Regions from separate parts of the Homo sapiens genome. Here region 1 is linked to region 2. The links come from fine-mapping of genetic effects on gene expression. A gene starts in region 2. The other region holds a variant in brackets. All regions are shown on one strand. Distances are between the middles of the regions. Region 1 overlaps AMZ1 (archaelysin family metallopeptidase 1). Region 2 holds the start of AMZ1 (archaelysin family metallopeptidase 1).

Evidence for each region.
Region 1: its variant is fine-mapped to the expression of AMZ1 in whole blood (TOPMed, PIP above 0.99).

Annotation. Positions count from the first base shown.
Region 1 is chr7:2,705,296-2,713,611 of GRCh38, reverse strand. It overlaps AMZ1 (archaelysin family metallopeptidase 1), which reads right to left. Exons shown (of 7, transcript NM_001384743.1): 4 at 4,896-5,024; 5 at 4,368-4,537; 6 at 3,796-3,972; 7 at 1-1,282. The coding sequence ends at 734. Among named protein-coding and RNA genes, the nearest start is that of AMZ1, 21 kb to the right of the region's middle. RefSeq lists silencers at 271-470, 3,649-3,808 and enhancers at 2,129-2,288, 2,929-2,978, 2,989-3,208, 3,354-4,049, 3,969-4,068. The variant G/C (reference allele first, on the strand shown) is at 4,795.
Region 2 is chr7:2,683,255-2,691,570 of GRCh38, reverse strand. AMZ1 (archaelysin family metallopeptidase 1) reads right to left here and starts at 3,369. Exons shown (of 7, transcript NM_001384743.1): 1 at 3,275-3,369. RefSeq lists an enhancer at 2,401-2,670.

The sequences.
Region 1 (8,316 bases), 22 kb before region 2:
AAAACCCCGTCACTTCCCCGTTAGGGAGGAGACTCAGCCTTGGAAGCTGGGTGGCAGTGTGGAGCCTGTGTGCCCCCGGGGTCACTCCTCATCTGAGCCAGCCTCTCCAGCTCCAGCTATAAATAACTGAAGGGCAGGCCCACAGCCTGGAAGGAGACAGGACGCACGCTGCTTCCTTCTGCCTCTGCAGGGGAGGGGGCTCTGTCCCAACCTCAGCACAGTCCGGCTTGTACTCCACGAGAAGCACCCAGGATCAGGGAGGCCTCTCCATGTGTGCAGGCCCCTGGGAGCGGCTGGCTGGGACTCAGGAGTTGAAGGAGGCGCCTGAAGACAGGTGGTCTGTGGCTTCTCCAAAGAACTTTTTTTTTTCTGGAGACAGTCTTTCTGTGTGGCCCAGACTGCAGTACAGTGGTATGATCACATCCCACTGCAGCCTCGACCTCCTAGGCTCAAGCAATCCTCCCACCTCAGCCTCCTGAATAGCTGGGAACACAGGCATGAACCACTTCATCCAGCTAATTTTTTAATTTTTCTTTTGTAGAGGCAGAGTCTCACCATGTTGCCCAGTCTGGTCTCAAACTCCTGGCCTCTCAAAGTGATGGGATGACAGGCCTGAGCCACCACCCAGGCAGACCCTTCCTCTTTATCCCTGGCAGGTCAGTAGTGGCCTCAGCTACTGGACAGTGCTGGCCAGCATCCTTAGGGAAGGAGACGTAGGGCAGCCCCTGCTGTACTAACTCTCTTCCCCATCCCAGGGACGGGGGGCCGACTCTGCTCTGGCGAGTTTTCGGGCACTCAGCTTCCTCCTCAGGGAGGAGAACTTGTCCCCCAGCACCTTGCGCAGCCCCACGCTGTCCCTGCTGCTGGGTGGGTCCTGCCTGGTGGCCGGGAGCTGGCCCGTGAACATCTCCCAGCGGTCGAGGGCGTCCACGGCTCTGTCCACCTGCACCAGGTCCTCCTCTGCCACTTCCCGCTGCAGGGCCTGGATGCACATGGCCAGCCACCGTTCATGCTCCTTGATGGCCTCCGCAGGGCCCCCAGGTGGCAGCGGAGCCTCTGAGGCTGCCAGGTAGCTCAGCCCTTCCTCTGGCCCCGAGGCGAAGGTGTGACTCCCGGCATCAGGGGTGAGGGGCTCCGACACACTGGTGCCGGGCTCCGAGTCACTCTCACAGCACATGCCCGAGTCGGCGCTGGCAGGCGGGGTGTCCTCCCACACTGACGGCTCCCCCGCCTCCTGGCTGGGCCACGTCCCCACCACCGCCTGAGTCCAGGTGTAGAGTCTCTAAGAGGGAGAAACACAGGCTGAGTTTGCTCCGTGCCAGCCCTTGTCTAGCCAGGGAACTGCCAGGAGACCTCCTTACCTAAGGGGACCCCACCGTCCTCAGTTACCCAGGGGCGGGAGTCAGGCTGGTGGTGTGAGGGCTCTTGTGACCAGCACCCTTTGAGGACTCATGTCCAGGCTGTGCCAGAGTCAGAGGTACCCACCCCCAAGAGCTCACCATTCAGGAACTTCGCAAGCTCCTTGTCATCCAAAGTTAGAACACTTAACATTTTTCGATTTTTTTAAGACAGAGGCTCACTCTGTTGGCCAGGCTGGAGTGCAGTGCTGCGATCTCAGCTCACTGCAACCTCCCCCTCCCAGGTTCAAGCAATTCTCCTGCGTTGGCCTCCTGAGTAGCAGGGATTTTACAGGTTCCTGCCAGCATGCCTGGCTAATTTTTACATTTTTTAGTGGAGACGGGGTTTCACCATGTTAGCCAGGCTGGTCTCAAACTCCTGACCTCAGATGACCCACCCACCTCCGCCTCCCAAAGTGCTGGGATTACAGGTGTGAGCCACGGCACCCACCCAGAAAGCGTATAATTAAATAAAATTTAAAATTTTAAAGCAAAGGTGTGGGCATGGTGGCTCACGCTTGTAATCCCAGCACAGGGAGGCAGAGGCAGGAGGATCACTTGAAACCAGGAGTTCAAGACCAGCCTGGGCAACATAGTGAGACCACCAGGGGGAAAAAAATGTAAAGCAAAGGCAGTACTTGAAACTCACTTCCTAAATGTTTTCTCCATTTCACTCTCACCTCTGCTCTCAAGGTTAGTCTCCTCTCCTGCATCTGTACAGGGGACACACAGTTTAACAAGGTCCCACTGCACATCTGTTCCCAACTCAGCACTCACTGACATCACATTGGGAGCTCACATCAGCCATCGTGAGACTGTTTACACCACAGGAAGTGGCAGAGACCACAACAAGTCAGGCTTTCTTCAAGAGGCATTTCACTGATTGCTGTCAGTGGACAGCAGTGACCTTTTCTGGCCAGGCCCTTGGTCAGCTCTCCAGCACCTCCCCAAGCCCTGGGACAGCAGGTGACCTCACATCCACACCACTGCCCTCCCTACAACAGCCAGGAGGGCCAGGCCACCCTGGAGTGCCTTTGCCCTGGCCCTCTTCCCTCCACAGCCTCAGGAGATGGTGCTCACGGAACGGAGAGAGCTCTGGGCAGGAGGAGGAGCTACACCCTCCAGCTCAGATCCAGGTGGATCCAGGCTATGCCAGGTCAGCACGTGTAGGGAGGGGCATACACTTTCTAAAAGTTCATGTCAGATGGTTGCACAAGACCCCAGGTGAAGGCATCAAATGAGAGCTCTCAACCCTTTCTGCAGACCAAGCTGCCCCTGTGCCTGTTACACAGCCTCAGGAAGGTACTAAGAGCTGCCCCTTGACGGGGCACAGCTGGCAGCAGCAACCTTTACAAGGCATCACCAGGTGCTGACCAGCCATCACGCCACCTGTACCCTCGGGAGATGCTCCTACCCTCAGCCATGGCTGCGCCTGGGTTCCCCCCAAGTCACAGGCTCTTCTCCTTACACTTGGAAAAGCTGTTTCCTCTGTGCCCCCTTCACCTTCCCTTGACTGCCAGAGTCTTCAGAGAGGATCCCTGCAGAGAGATTCCAGCACTGTGAGCTAGAAATGCCACGGCCTCTAGTTCAGTGTCACCCAGGACCCTGCAAGATACAGCTCCTCACTCTACCCCAGAAGGAAGGAGGGCCCAGCTAGGCCCTGCAGGGGATTCTGACAGGCTCGGTCCGGGAACCACACCCCCACTTGCCTCAACGGGCGGGAGGAGGATGCAGGGGCTTTCCAGCGCGGTTTCATTGACTGCTCTGGTGCCTGTACGCAGTGAGCACCTTATAACTGGTTGTAGTCCAAAGCTGGGTTTGAAGAAAAATTACCACCACCTGCCTTTGCACTCAGAACTCAGAGTAAAGCTTTTGAGCTTGCAAACAAATGTCCATGAATACGGACGAGCCCTTTGCTCGGCAACCCCACCCAGGCGACAGAGGGAGTTAGGAATGGAGGCCACCTCCAACAAGCCTTGTTGTGTCAGCTCCCACCTCCTCGCAAGGGGCCTGTGCCTCCTCTGAGCAGCAGTGACCCAAGTGTGGGTGACGGGAAAGCAAAGAGAAAGTTACCCTGGGAAGACCGTGCCACCCGCCGGCTGGGCTCCAATGCCAGCTCTTCCTGACAGAGGGAGAAAAGCCCTCGTCCCCACTCGACCCCGCTGCAACCTCCCAGTCACAGCCACCACACGCGGGCCCTGGCAGGACTCGATCTACTGCCAGTGAGATCCGGATGGAGCTCAACCCCAGCGCAGGTCCCAGGGCTCTGCACTGCCTGGAACCCGGCAGTTGACAAAGCCTGTGTGCGGTCCCCATGCCCTGCGTAGCCTCCAGGCGGCGCTCGCGGGCCTCCGGAGCGCAGGTCCCAGCAGCCGGGCAGCGCAACTCAGCCACTCACCTGGTACCTCTCGATGAGCCTGAAACCCAGGACATGCTGCAGCTTCCTCAGGCAGATGGGACAGAGGTCCAGGGGCCGCCGCAGGGCCTCGTCCAGGCTGAGCGCACCCTGCATGAGGCAGCGGAGCCAGCGGCAGTTCCCCAGGCCCAGAAGGTGGCAGAGCTCGTGGCACGTGACCTGGGGGGAAGGCCACCAAGCACCTTGCCTCACTGCCTTGCCCCTGCATCCGGCAGATCCCCAGGCAGCCCCAGCAGGACCAAAATGAGGACCTGGGTGAGGCCAGATGGCCGGGAGGTGGTCCAGGCGCCCTCCCCCTGCCCCAGGCGGCACAGGCCACTTTCAGGGCCCCAGGGGAAAGGTGAGTCAGGGTGGGAGGCCACACAGGATAGGGGCTTGGGGCTCTAATCCCTCCCCTGCTGCTTCATAGCTGTGTAGCCTTGCTTTCCTCATTCCATAGAGTTAGGGGTCCATCCACTTCACTGTGAGGATGGGGCAGTGTAACAGACCGAGGCACCAAGGGCTCAGACAGCACCCTCCTGTCCCCTCTTACCAGCCCCAGAGCCCCCACCCACCTTGCAGCACTGAACCATCCCCAGGGCACTGAAGCACAGGGCCCAGCCCCTGTCCTGCAGGGGGGCCTCGGGGCCGTCTGCTGCTGCCTCTACCAGGGCCAGATCAGGGGCGCTGGGCCCCGACTTCGGGAATTCCCCTGAGAACCGGGCGAAGCTGCAGACGCCCACTTCTGGAGAGAGATGGAGAGAAGGGCACTCTCAGGGGTCAGCCTTGGCTCTGGGGGGCCCACCGTCAAACCCACCTCATGCTCTCATGCAAGCTGGCCATGGCCCAAAGACATACCAGTCCTGGGAGGCCCTGTCCTGCCCACATGAAGTTGGGCCCTGGGGCAGACGCCACAGCTGAGGAACAGCCCCTATGCCATTCCTCAGGAGGAGCTGGAAGGGGCCATCTATTCCCATGCACAGGTGTTGACTTCCACCAGGA[G/C]GGTGCTTGAAGCAAAAGCAAAGAGGGTGCCCTGCAGCCACGGAGGCCACAGCCCCATGCCAGGCTACCCCCCACGCACAGCTGCTGGGGCCCCGGCTCACCGTGCCCTGGAAGGAACTTGCTGAAGGTGAAGCTCCAGGCCTCATGGGGGTACAGGTCAGACAGTGTGAGGCCCAGCACACACAGCGCGTCCCCTGGCTTGTTGTTCTTCAAGAAGGACAGGATGCCGTCTGCGGGGAGAGGGCCAGAGGATGGGGTCAGGAGGCAGCCGGGGACCCCCATCTTCCAGGCTCAGGCTGGCACCCCGTCATCCTCTTCCTCTGCCTGGGCCCTGCCCCTTCCCAAGTCAGGTGTGGGCCACCAGCGTTTGGTGTGACCTGAGGGCACACAGTACTGCATGATGTGGAGTGACAGCCAGGGCCATTTGGAGATCAGGACATGGTAAGTCAAAGGCCATGGACAGCCCAGTGGGGACGCTGGAGAGGCAGCCGGGCCAACAAGACTGGCGCTTGCAGCCCCAGGAAGGAGAAGCCACCTCAGCAGCTGAGCGACAGCCCCAGAGAGTCCACGTCTCAGCCCTGGGACCTGTGAGTCCCCACAGCCAAAGGGGCTGCAGATGATTAAAGATCTTGGGATGGAGGCGTTTTTCTGCAGCAGCCAGCTGAGCCTGATGCCATCACAAGAACCCTCGGTAAGGCCGGGCACAGTGGCTCACACCTGTGATGCCAGCAACTCGGGAGGCCAAGATGGGCAGATCACCTGAGGTCAGGAGTTCGAGACCAGCCTGGCCAACATGACAAAACCCCATCTCTACTAAAAATACAAAATGAGCCGGGCCTGGTGGTGCGTGCCTGTAATCCCAACTACTCAGGAGTCTGAGACGGGAGAATTGCTTGAACCCAGGAGGTAGAGGTGGCAATGAGCTGACATCACGCCACTGCCCTCTAGCCTGGGCAACAGAGCCAGACTCCATCTCAAAAAAAAAAAAAAAAAAAAAAAGCCCTCGTTAGAGGCAGCAGGGGGTCTGGGTGAGAACGTGAGGCCTGAGGGCACTGCAGGGCTGGCTCGGAGGAAGGACCATTAGCCAAGGATACGGGTGCCTCTAGAAGCTGGAAAGGGCAGGAAATGGATTCTCCCTGGAGTTTCCTGGAGCCAACCCTTGACTTTAGCCTGGGCAGTGGGGGCGCTCCTGACCCACAGCACTGTGAGATCACAGTGGGTCATCCAAGCTAGCAAGTTGTGTAACTTGTTAGCATGGTTCCCCGGAGCATGAGTGTGGACAGATACAGGAGAGGCCCAGGGGCTGAACCTGGGCACGATGGCATCAAAGCCGGGAAACCAGAAGCCCAGGGAGGGAAGGGGGCAGAGCAGCCACCACGGGCCCAGGAAACCCGGAGAGGGTCTCAGAGTTAGTGTAGAGAAGAGGGGTTGCGGCACAGAGGCACACCGGAGAAGTGTTTTCCAAGGAGTTCTACCATTAAAAGGAACAGATTGACAAGGAGGTTGTTCTGTGTGTGTGTGTTTTTTTGTTTTTTTTTTTTGAGATGGAGTGTTGCTTTGTTGCCCAGGCTGCAGTGTAGTGGCGCTATCTATCTCAGTTCACTGTAACCTCCGCCTCCCAGGTTCAAGCCATTCTCCTGCCTCAGCTTCCTGAGTAGCAGGGATTACAGGCACGTGCCATCACACCCAGCTAATTTTTGTATTTTTAGTAGAAAGGAGATTTCACCATGTTAGTCAAGCTGGTCTCAAACTCCTACCCTCGTGATCCGTCTGCCTCGGTCTCCCAAAGTGCTGGGATTACAGGCATGACCCACCACAGCTGGCCCTGTGTTTGTTTTTGAGATAACATCCCATTCTGTCACCCAGGCTGGAGTACAATCACAGCTCACGCTGCAGTCTCCACCTCCTGGGCTCAAGCAATCTTCCTGCCTCGGCCTCCTGAGCAGCTGGGTAATTGATTGACAATGATGCTAATGAGGTGATGATGATTGACAGTGATGATTGTTGTGGATCAGGCTATGTCCCCCAAAAAGACAGGTGGAAGTCCTAACCCCCGGAACCTGCCATTGTTTGGAAACAGGATCTGTGCAGATGTAATCCAGTTAAGATGAGGTCATGAAGGAGACCCAGTGACTGGAGTCTTAGAAGAGACGCAGAGGCACATGGCGTAAAGCTCACGGGAAGTCAAAGGCTGAGGTTGGAGTTGTGCATCTGGAAGCCACAGAGGGCTGGGCATTGCCAGCAACTTCCAGAAGCTGGAGGCAGCCAGGAAGCACCCTCCACGGAGCCTTCTGAGACCACGTGGCCCTGCCAAAACCTTGGTTAAGAACTGCAGGCTCCAGCGATGTGAGACAAGAAATGTCCCTAAGCCACTCAGTTTGTGGTACTTTGTTACGGCAGTCCCAGGAAACCAGTACAGTGATCCAAAGCATGCTACTCTCTGGGCAAGATGGCAGGACCCCATCTCTACAACAATCAAAATAATTAGCCAGGTGTGATGGCACGTGTCTGCGGTCCCAGCTACTTGGGAGGCTGAGGCAGAGGAGCCCAGGAGTTCAAGGCTGCAGGGAGCTATGATCGCACCACTGCGCTTGAGCCTGGGTCACAAAGCAAGACCCCATCTCTAAAAAAAAATTAAAAACCAGGCTGAGCTGACCCCACAAATGCAACCTGGCATACCCTCTGAGTTCCACCTGCTTTTGAACCTTCCCGAGTGCATGTCCTTTTCCCGAGGGCTCCCCCGTGCACCTTCTGAAGTGTGGGGCTGGGGAAAACAGCAGTTTGTCCACTAAGCAGAGGGGGTGGAAAGCCCTGGAGTGACCCTTGTGGGACTTGGTGCTGTCTCTGAGCTGCCACAGGCCTGGCACCAACAGGTCAGAGGCCATAACAGGTGAGACGCACCGTGTACGGCGTGGGGGAGGTGAGGAGAGCTGAGGCTGCAGAGGCCAAGCCTGAGAGGCACGGGGTCCCCGGCTGTGTTTTAGGGCCAGGGCCAAGGCAGGCCACATTGTCCCCAGACCCCACTGTAGGACCTCAGGGGCTGGGGAAGCCTGTGGAGTGTAGGCTGTACCCAGAAAGCAGGCCAGGACAAAGAAACATGCCACCCAGGGGATGGCACCCCACCCCAGCCAGGGGACCCCTATCAACCCCCAAATCTCAACAGTGGCTGCTCCCTGTAACAGTACCCTAGGGAATTTAGACAACCCTCCCGCCAAAAGATGGCCAGACAGGCAGAGTGAATGATAAAGAACAGCTGCTTCCAACACCCACGATGGGGAGGAGTGGATTAAGGAGAAAGGTTTGGTGGCCGGTAGAGGGGTAGAGAGCCGCCCTCTATATGATTATGGTGATGGCCACGTGATGTATGCGTGTGTCAAGACTCAGAACCTTACACTAAAAAGGATGAATTTTACTATCTAAATTATACCTCAATAACCAAGGCAGAGACCTAATGAGAAAAACGGGGAGGACTGGAGCTCAAACAGATGAAGCTGGACTGTTTCTGGGGTGGGGGAGTGGGCA
Region 2 (8,316 bases):
CGAGGTTTCACCATATTGGCCAAGCTGTTCTCAGACTCCTGACCTTGTGATCCACCCGCCTCGGCCTCCCGAAGTGCTGGGATTATATGTGTGAGCCACCGCGCCCGGCCCAAAATCACTTTCTGATGCAACACCTTGTCCGACCTCCAAAGCCATCCTGAGATTCACCCATGTCATAACCCAGGAGACTGAGGCTCAGAGAGGGAAAGCCACTTGCCCAGGGTTACACAGCTCACCTGGATCTTGACTCCCAGCACAGAGACCCCTGACTCCAGTCCTCACACACGGACCTTCCCCTACTCTTGAGGGGGCTTTCCTGCCAGCACCCACACCCACCTGACCACCCGAAAACCCTGGTCAGAGGCTTCCCTGCCAGCAAACCCTCCTACTCCAGGCAAAGCATCAGGAAATGAGAAATGCTTTTTTTTTTTTTTTTTTTGCCTCTGTCACCCAGGCTGGAGTGCAGTGGCACAATCTCAGCTCACTGCAACCTCCTTCTCCTCCAGGGTTCAAGCGATTCTCATGCCTCAGCCTCCCTAGTAGCTGGGACTACAGACGCATGCCACCATGCCAGGCTAATTTTGTTATCTTTAGTAGAGACAGGGTTTCACCATGTTGGCCAGGCTAGTATCGAACTCCTGGCCTCAAGTGGTCTGCCTGCCTCGGCCTCCCAAAGCACTGGGATTTCAGAGGTGAGCCACCACACCCGGCTGAGAAATGCCTTCTTTTTACCAAAAGTTCACAAGCCCTACCACATTGGTTCCAGGTGTGACTTGGGCCCAAACTGCCAACCTCAGGCCCATCTAAGTTATTCAGGGAGGACCGAATGGGAGCAACAGGAAGGGCCACAGCGACAAGTTTTGCAGGGGACCAGAGCACACGCACAGAGGAGCCACGACCACAGAGGCCGTTTGCACACCCGCAAGCAGTGGCGGGCACGTGGGTAACTCAAGAGCATCTACATCGGAAACCCAGCCAGAGACACAACACCACCTTCAGCCAACCTGAGCCGCCCGGGAAGGAGTGGCCACGCCAGCTCCAGACTAGCCCGGCTGGAAGATCAACAGGATGTGAGAGGCAAGCTCTAAAAATAGCCACCTCCCGGGACAATCGCTTGAGTCCAGGAGTTTGAGACCAGCCTGGGGAAATATGGCAAAACCCCGTCTCTACAAAACATTTTAAAAATTAGCTGGGCATGGTTGTGCATGCCTGTGGTCCCAGCTACTAGGGAGGCTGAGATGGGAGGATTGCTTTCGCCCTGGAGGTCGAGGCTGTGGTGAGCTATGATTGCATCACTGCATTCCAGCCTGGAAGACAGAGCAAGACCCTGTCTGTCTGTCTGTCTGTCTCTCTCTCTCTCTCACACACACACAAAAACACAGCCACCTCCTAGTGCAGACTGGAGAATGGTGTGACAGGCTCCAAGCTAGGAATGAGAACGCTTAGCTCCCTCCATCCCTTAACACGGGTACAGCTCTCGGGCATCCAGGGCATGACGTCTGCCCACATACTATTTCCTCTCAAGAAGCCTTGTGGCCACATTCGTCTTCGTGGGTCATTCAGGAAAACCCCGGTCCCCACTGTCAGCTGCCAGCTGAGTCCTTCCATCCTGCCAGGTCATTTCTGCACAAGACCACTCCTCACATAGAGCCAGAGCTGCATGTGAGCCCTGGGGGTACCCACGGGGAGGGAGCCGCCTTAGTGGGGGTCAGCTTCGCAGCACCCTCTGGCACTCACCAACCCATCCATGCTCCAAAAAGGAGACCCCCAGATGGAGGTTTCTCGCTGTCCTTTGGACCCTGTCACAGTGTGTCCCCCTCCTCTGCTAACTGCAGTCATGACAGCAGCCAACAGGTCTCATGCCTGCGTCCTCCAAGCCACACACGGAGCCGCAGGTGCCACTGCGGTGTTTCAGGTGGGGAAACTGAGGCTCAGACGTTAAGTGACTTGGCCCTGGCGACACAGCTGGGGGCCAGCGGGGCCTGGTTTCAAAGCCACGCTTCACACTGGAACCCCAGCTGCTCCTGGAGCAGGGATGTTCTGACGGGGACAGGGGGTAGGACGTCTCCTCTCCCAGAGCACCCGAGTTCCAGCCCTGCTGCTATTAATACCATGGGTAAACTCAGACGCTTCTCCTTCCTCCTCCCCTTGCCTTTTTTTGTCCAAAGACTGGAAAAGAGCACGTCCGCATCCCCCCCCCAGGGAGGTTCTGCCGCTCTAAGCAACAAGGGCCGCCAGACTGGCCCAGTAACCAGGTATCCAAGGTCAGGCTGCCCTAAACCGCACAGCTCCGGGCACTCATGCTCCCCCATCTGACCACGCAGATGCCTGGCCTTTGGGCAAGAAACCATGCTCTGATTCTCGCTATTCTGAATGCGCTTTGCAAAACCTCCCAGCAGCTGCATCGAGCTATTCATTAGCTGACAGCGGAGACCTTCAGGCAGAACCAGACGGACGGATGGTTTTGGGGGTTTCTCACCTCTCAGTTTCCATTCGCTAGGAGGGAAAACCGGGGGCTTAGACCGCAGGGGTAGTGGCCTCCGGGCCAGACTCTTGGCTTCCTGTTCTCTCTCCTCACCTGCGAACCCCAAACTCCTCTGCCAAGTGTTTCCCTCCCGTGATGGGGGCAGAAAGGACCCAGGTCCCTGCCCTCCCCTGTCCTTTGTAAAGTTTGCCATTTCTCTGTCACCCCTCCCTTGCTTTTCTGGTTTTGAGACCTGTCTTACATCCCTGCAGGGATCATATCCACAGCCTTCTCCCTCAGTCTCCTGGGGGAGGAAGCCTTCTCCCTCCCCGGCTCATACACAGGCTGCGGGGAGCCCTGGGCACGACGAGATTCTCGGCGCCCTGGAGGTTCCCCGGGGACGTCCCGCACCCACCTGGCTCGCCCCAGCCCGGAAACGCCTTCTTTCGGGCGCTTGGCCCTGGATTCCCGACCCGTCCCCAGTTTGCTCCCATCGGGAAGCGCGCAGGTCGCCCTGGCCTGGGAGAGGATGGCGGGGAGGGGGCGCGTGGCCCTTCCCTGGCCCGGCCTTCCCTCTGCAGGACCTGCCGGGGCTGTGCGGACCCCGGCGCGGCGCTGCACCAAACCCTCGCCAAGTGCGCCCTTCGCGTCTCCGCGGTCCCCGCGCGCCCGTAGCCGCCGCCGCCCGGGCGCCCTCGGGACTTGGTGCGCGGGCCGGGCTGGACCCGGAGCTGCCCCTACCCACCCGCCCCGGCACGGAGGTCCCTCTCGGTCCCTGCGCCCCCGAGTCTTCCCCGCGCGCCCCCCTACCTCGCAGTCCCGCGCCCGCCGGAGCCGGCAGAGGCCGCGCCGGGCACCGAGCCCCGGGCAGCAGCGTGGGCAGCTCGGCCTGGGCCGGGAGGATCGGGAGGTCCCGGTGACGTCGGCGCGCGGGGCAGGGACCGAGGCGGGCGGGACTGGGGCCGGTGTGGGGCCGCGGGCAGGACAGGAGGGCCACACCCCTCCCGGCGCTCAGCGTCCTGCCCCACTCCCTCCAGCTGCCCGCGGTGGAGCTCACGTGGGACCCTCCAGCCTCCCAGAAACACCCGGGCAGGGGGGCCCCAGAGCCTAAAGCCAAACAGGTGAGGGAGGTCAGTCAGCCCGGGCCAGTTCGTGCCTCCCCAGGTGAGAGGAGTAAACCCGGCTACTCTGCAAGGCGCCAGGTGAAGAGGTGAACCAGGCCACCAGTTAAGGCCCCAGGTGAGAGGGGTGAACCAGCGCCACGAGGTGAGGAAGGGGAACCAGGCCACCAGGAGAGGCCCCAGGTGAGAGGGGTGAACCAGGCTATCAGGCAAGGCGCCAGGTGAGGGGGTGAACGAGGCCACCAGGTGAGGAGGTGAACCAGGCTTATCAGCGAAGCCCCAGGTGAGAGGGGTGAACCAGGCCCCTAGGTTAGCCCTACAGTCAGTGGCCCTGAGGACGGGCGCCCTGCCCTACCCTGGCCAGCTGTGAGTGCAGCCCTGGCCCTGTGCCAGCCACCAGGAGATGGAAAGGACTCTAAGTGCGGAAGGATGCCGTGAAGGCCGGCATGACGGCTCCAGACAGAGCCCAGAGGCCTTTTCCATAAACTGCCCTTTTCCTCTCTGCAAACCCTCCCAGCACCAGCTTCCCTCGGGCAGCCTCCCACCAGCTCTGCTTCACCGTGCAGAAATGCCCCCCACGCCCTCAGCAGCGCCCCACAGATGGCTGAGGGATTCGTCACCATCGTCCCACACCAGTGCAAAGAATTTTTTTTTTTTTTTAGATGGAGTCTCGCTCTGTCGCCCAGGCTGGAGTGTAATGGTGCAATCTGGGCTCACTGCAACCTCCACCTCCGGGGTTCAAGTCATTCTTCTGCCTCAGCCGCCTGAGTAGTGGGGATTATAGGTACCCATCATTGTGTCCAGCTAATTTTTGTATTTTTAATAGAGATGGGGTTTCACCTTCTTGGCCAGGCTGGTATCAAACTCTTGACCTCATGATACACCCGCCTCAGCCTCTCAAAGTGCTGGGAGTACAGGCGTGAGCCACCACACCCAGCCTCAAAGAATTTTTTTAAGCCTTAAGAAATAACACGGCTGGGCGTGGTGGCTCATGCCTGTAATCCCAGCACTTTGGGAGGCTGAGGCAGACAGATCACAAGGTCAGGAGTTCAAGACCGGCCTGGCCAGTATGGTCAAACCCCGTCTCTATTAAAAATAAAAAAATTAGCTGGGCGTGGTGGCTGGTGCCTATAGTCCCAGCTACTCGGGAGGCTGAAGCAGGAGAATCACTTGAACCCGGGAGGCGGAGGTTGCAGTGAGCCGAGATTATGCCACTGCACTCCAGCCTGGGTGACAAAGCAAGACTTTGTTTCAAAAAAAAAAGAGAGAGAGAGAAAAACAACACAACACTAGGTGTCCGGTGTGCAAAATTTGGAAAATTATGAAAAATAAAAACAAAAAGAAGACCCCATAAGCCAACTGTGTAGAGGTAACCTCTCTCACCTTCTTGTCAGACATCCTTCTGATCGCCTTCTCCTCCACATTGAAATGTATTTTTAAAAAGTTTTTTTTGAGACAGGATCTTGCTCTATTGCCCAAGCTAGAATGCACTGGTATAAACGCGAGTCACTGTAGCCTCGACCTCCTAGACTCCAGCAATCCTCCTCCCTCAGCCTCCTGAGTAGCTGAGACTACAGGTACGTGCCATCACACCTGGCTAATTTTGAAACTTTTATGTAGAGATGGGATCTCGCTATGTTGCTCAAGCTGGTCTCAAACTCCTGGGCTCAAACAACCCTCCCAGCTCGGCCTCCCAAAATGTTGAGATCACAGGTATGAGCCACCGTGCCCAGCCTAAATACATATTTTAAGGGATTCACGTCACATACTGCGTTCTGCAGGCGGCCCGTGACTTCACACTCATCAATAGCCAAAAGTCCGTCTCCACACCCTGATGGTCTGCGCTGGACTCCGTGTCATGGATCTGTCACCTGCTTTGGGATATTTTGGTTTCTCCTGGTGTCTCACTAGCATATATCACTGTGATAGACGATCTTGTTTCCACAGATCTTTGTACAGGTATCTGGTCCCCCTCACCTTGGGATAAATTCCTACAAATAGATTGTGACTCAGAAAGCTGCACTTCTTCACACGTGTTGCCGCAGGGATTTTCCAGGTTATTTCTGTTGGGGATGGAGAACCCAGAACCTGAGAAAAGATGAATGTTCTTTTTTTTTTTTTTTTTTTTTTCTTGAGACGGAGTCTCGCTCTGTCACTCAGGCTGGAGTGCAGTGGCGTGATCTCGGCTCACTGCAAGCTCCACCTCCCGGGTTCACACCATTCTCCTGCCTCAGCCTCCTAAGTAGCTGGGACTACAGGCGCCTGCCATCATGCCTAGCTAATTTTTGTGTTTTTAGTAGAGATGGGGTTTCACCATGTTGGCCAGGATGGTCTCGATCTCCTGACCTCGTGATCCGCCTGCCACGGCCTCCCAAAGTGCTGGGATTACAGGCATGAGCCACCGCACCCGGCCTTTTTTTTTTTTTGAGACGGAGTCTCACTCTGTTGCCCAGAGCTGGAGTACAAGTGGCGCGATCTCGGCTCACTGCAAACTCCACTTCCTGGGTTCAAGCGATTCTCCTGCCTCAGCCACCCAAGTAGCTGCGATTACAGGTGCCCGTCACCTCGCCCGGCTAATTTTTGTATTTTTAGGAAGGACAGGGCTTCACCCTGTTGGCCAGGCTGGTCTCGAACTCCTGACTTCAAGTGATCCACCCGCCTTGGCCTCCCAAATTGCTGGGATTACAGGCGTGAGCCACCGAGCCTGGCCTGAATGTTCTGTCCTAAAGCTGCTTATTACAAAGAAGTTGTGGAATATCCTCCCCCCAACCCCCACGCCCCTCCCTGAATAGCCACCGGAAAGGAAATTATGCATCGAGGCCGGGCGCGGCGGCTCAACCTGTAATCCCAGCACTTTGGGAGGCCGAGGCGGGCGGATCACGAGGTCAGAAGATCAAGACCATCCTGGCTAACACAGTGAAACTCCATCTTTACTAAAGATACAAAAAATTAGCCGGGCGTGGTGGCGGGCGCCTGTAGTCCCAGCTACTCAGGAGGCTGAGGCAGGAGAATGGCGTGAACCTGGGAGGCGGAGCTTGCAGTGAGCTGAGATCGCGCCACTGCACTCCAGCCTGGGCGACAGAGACTCCGTCTCAAAAAAAAAAAAAAAAAAAGCAATTATGTGTCAAGCCCAGAGTGGCAGTTCCTCCTCTGTCTGTTGGGTCAGCCCGGGAGACTGGAAGCCCAGATGAGTAGGGCCCCTCCTGGGTGCCCCAAGTTGGGTGGCGCCATGCCCAGTGCCAGGACCCCCGAAACACAGAGGCAGCCTGCTGATGACCTGGCCCCTGCCAGCCAAGGCTTCACTCAGCCAACGCCCTGTCCACACTGCACCCGGGACACGCTGGTCTCCCACCGGCAGACTGCACACCCCTTTCTGGTTGAAGCTACCTCGTCAGAGTCTATTCTAGAAAGAGGCCGTGATATGGGGACCCCTGTCCTTTCAGTGATGAACAAAGGGGGCCGCCCCCAACTTTGACCCCATCACCATCCTCTGACCCAGGCCGACTTGGGGTTAAAAGAGAACTGTGTGGCCTGGGGAAGCTGCTTCACCTTGCCCTGCCTCAGTTTCCCCAGGGTGGGTTACATAGCGGCTCCCAAAAATGTGCCTACTTGCACCATCAGAATGGGACCTTATTTGGAAACCGAGTCGTTGCAGATATGGTTAAAGTAAGGATCTCAAGATGAGGTCATCCTGGGTCAGAGTCAGGGTGGGCCCTAAATCCAATGCAAGTGACTTTGTAAGAGACAGAAAGAGGTTCCTCATTGGAGGAACAAGACAATGTAAAAAATAATGACAATTTTTTTTTTTGAGATGGAGTCTCGCTCTGTCACCCGGGCTGGAGTGCAGTGGCGTGATCTTGGCTCACTGCAACCTCTGCCTCCCAGGTTCAAGCGATTCTCCTGCTTCAGCCTCCTGAGTAGCTGGGATTATAGGCGCGTGCCACCAAGCCCAGCTAATTTTTGTATTTTTAGTAGAGATGGGGTTTCACTGTGTTGGCCAGGCTGGTCTTAAACTCCTGACCTCAAGTGATCCACCCGCCTCGGCCTCCCAAAGTGCTGGGATTATAGGCATGAGCCACTACACCCAGCCAACAATTTTTTAAAAAGAGAGAGAAAGAGGCTGGGTGAGGTGGCTCACGCCTGTAATCTCCAACACTTTGGGAAGCCGAGGTGGGAGGATCACTTGAGCCCAGGAGTTGGAGACCAGCCTGGGCAGCATCTCTACAAAATATTGTAAAAAACAGACAGAGCTGGGCGCGGTGGCTCGCGTCTCTAATCCCAGCACTTTGGGAGGCCAAGGCAGGCGGATCACGAGGTCAGGAGATCGAGACCATCCTGGCTAACACGGTGAAACCCCGTCTCTATTAAAAATATAAAAAAATTAGCCAGGCGTGGTGGCAGGCACCTGTAGTCCCAGCTACTCGGGAGTCTGAGGCAGGAGAATGGTGTGAACCTGGGAGGCGGAGCTTGCAGTGAGCCGAGATCGTGCCACTGCACTCCAGCCTGGGTGACAGAGCCAGACTCTGTCTCAAAAAAAACAAAAACAAAAACAAACAAACAAACAAAAAAACAGAAAGTTGAAGACACAGAGACACAGAGGAGAAGACGGAGATGGGAGTGGTGCAGCCACAAGCCAAGGACACCTGGAGCCCCCAGAAGCAGGAAGAGGCAGGAAGGACCTTCCCCTGGAGCCCTCTGCAGAAGTTCGGCCCTGCCCCAGCCTTGACTTCA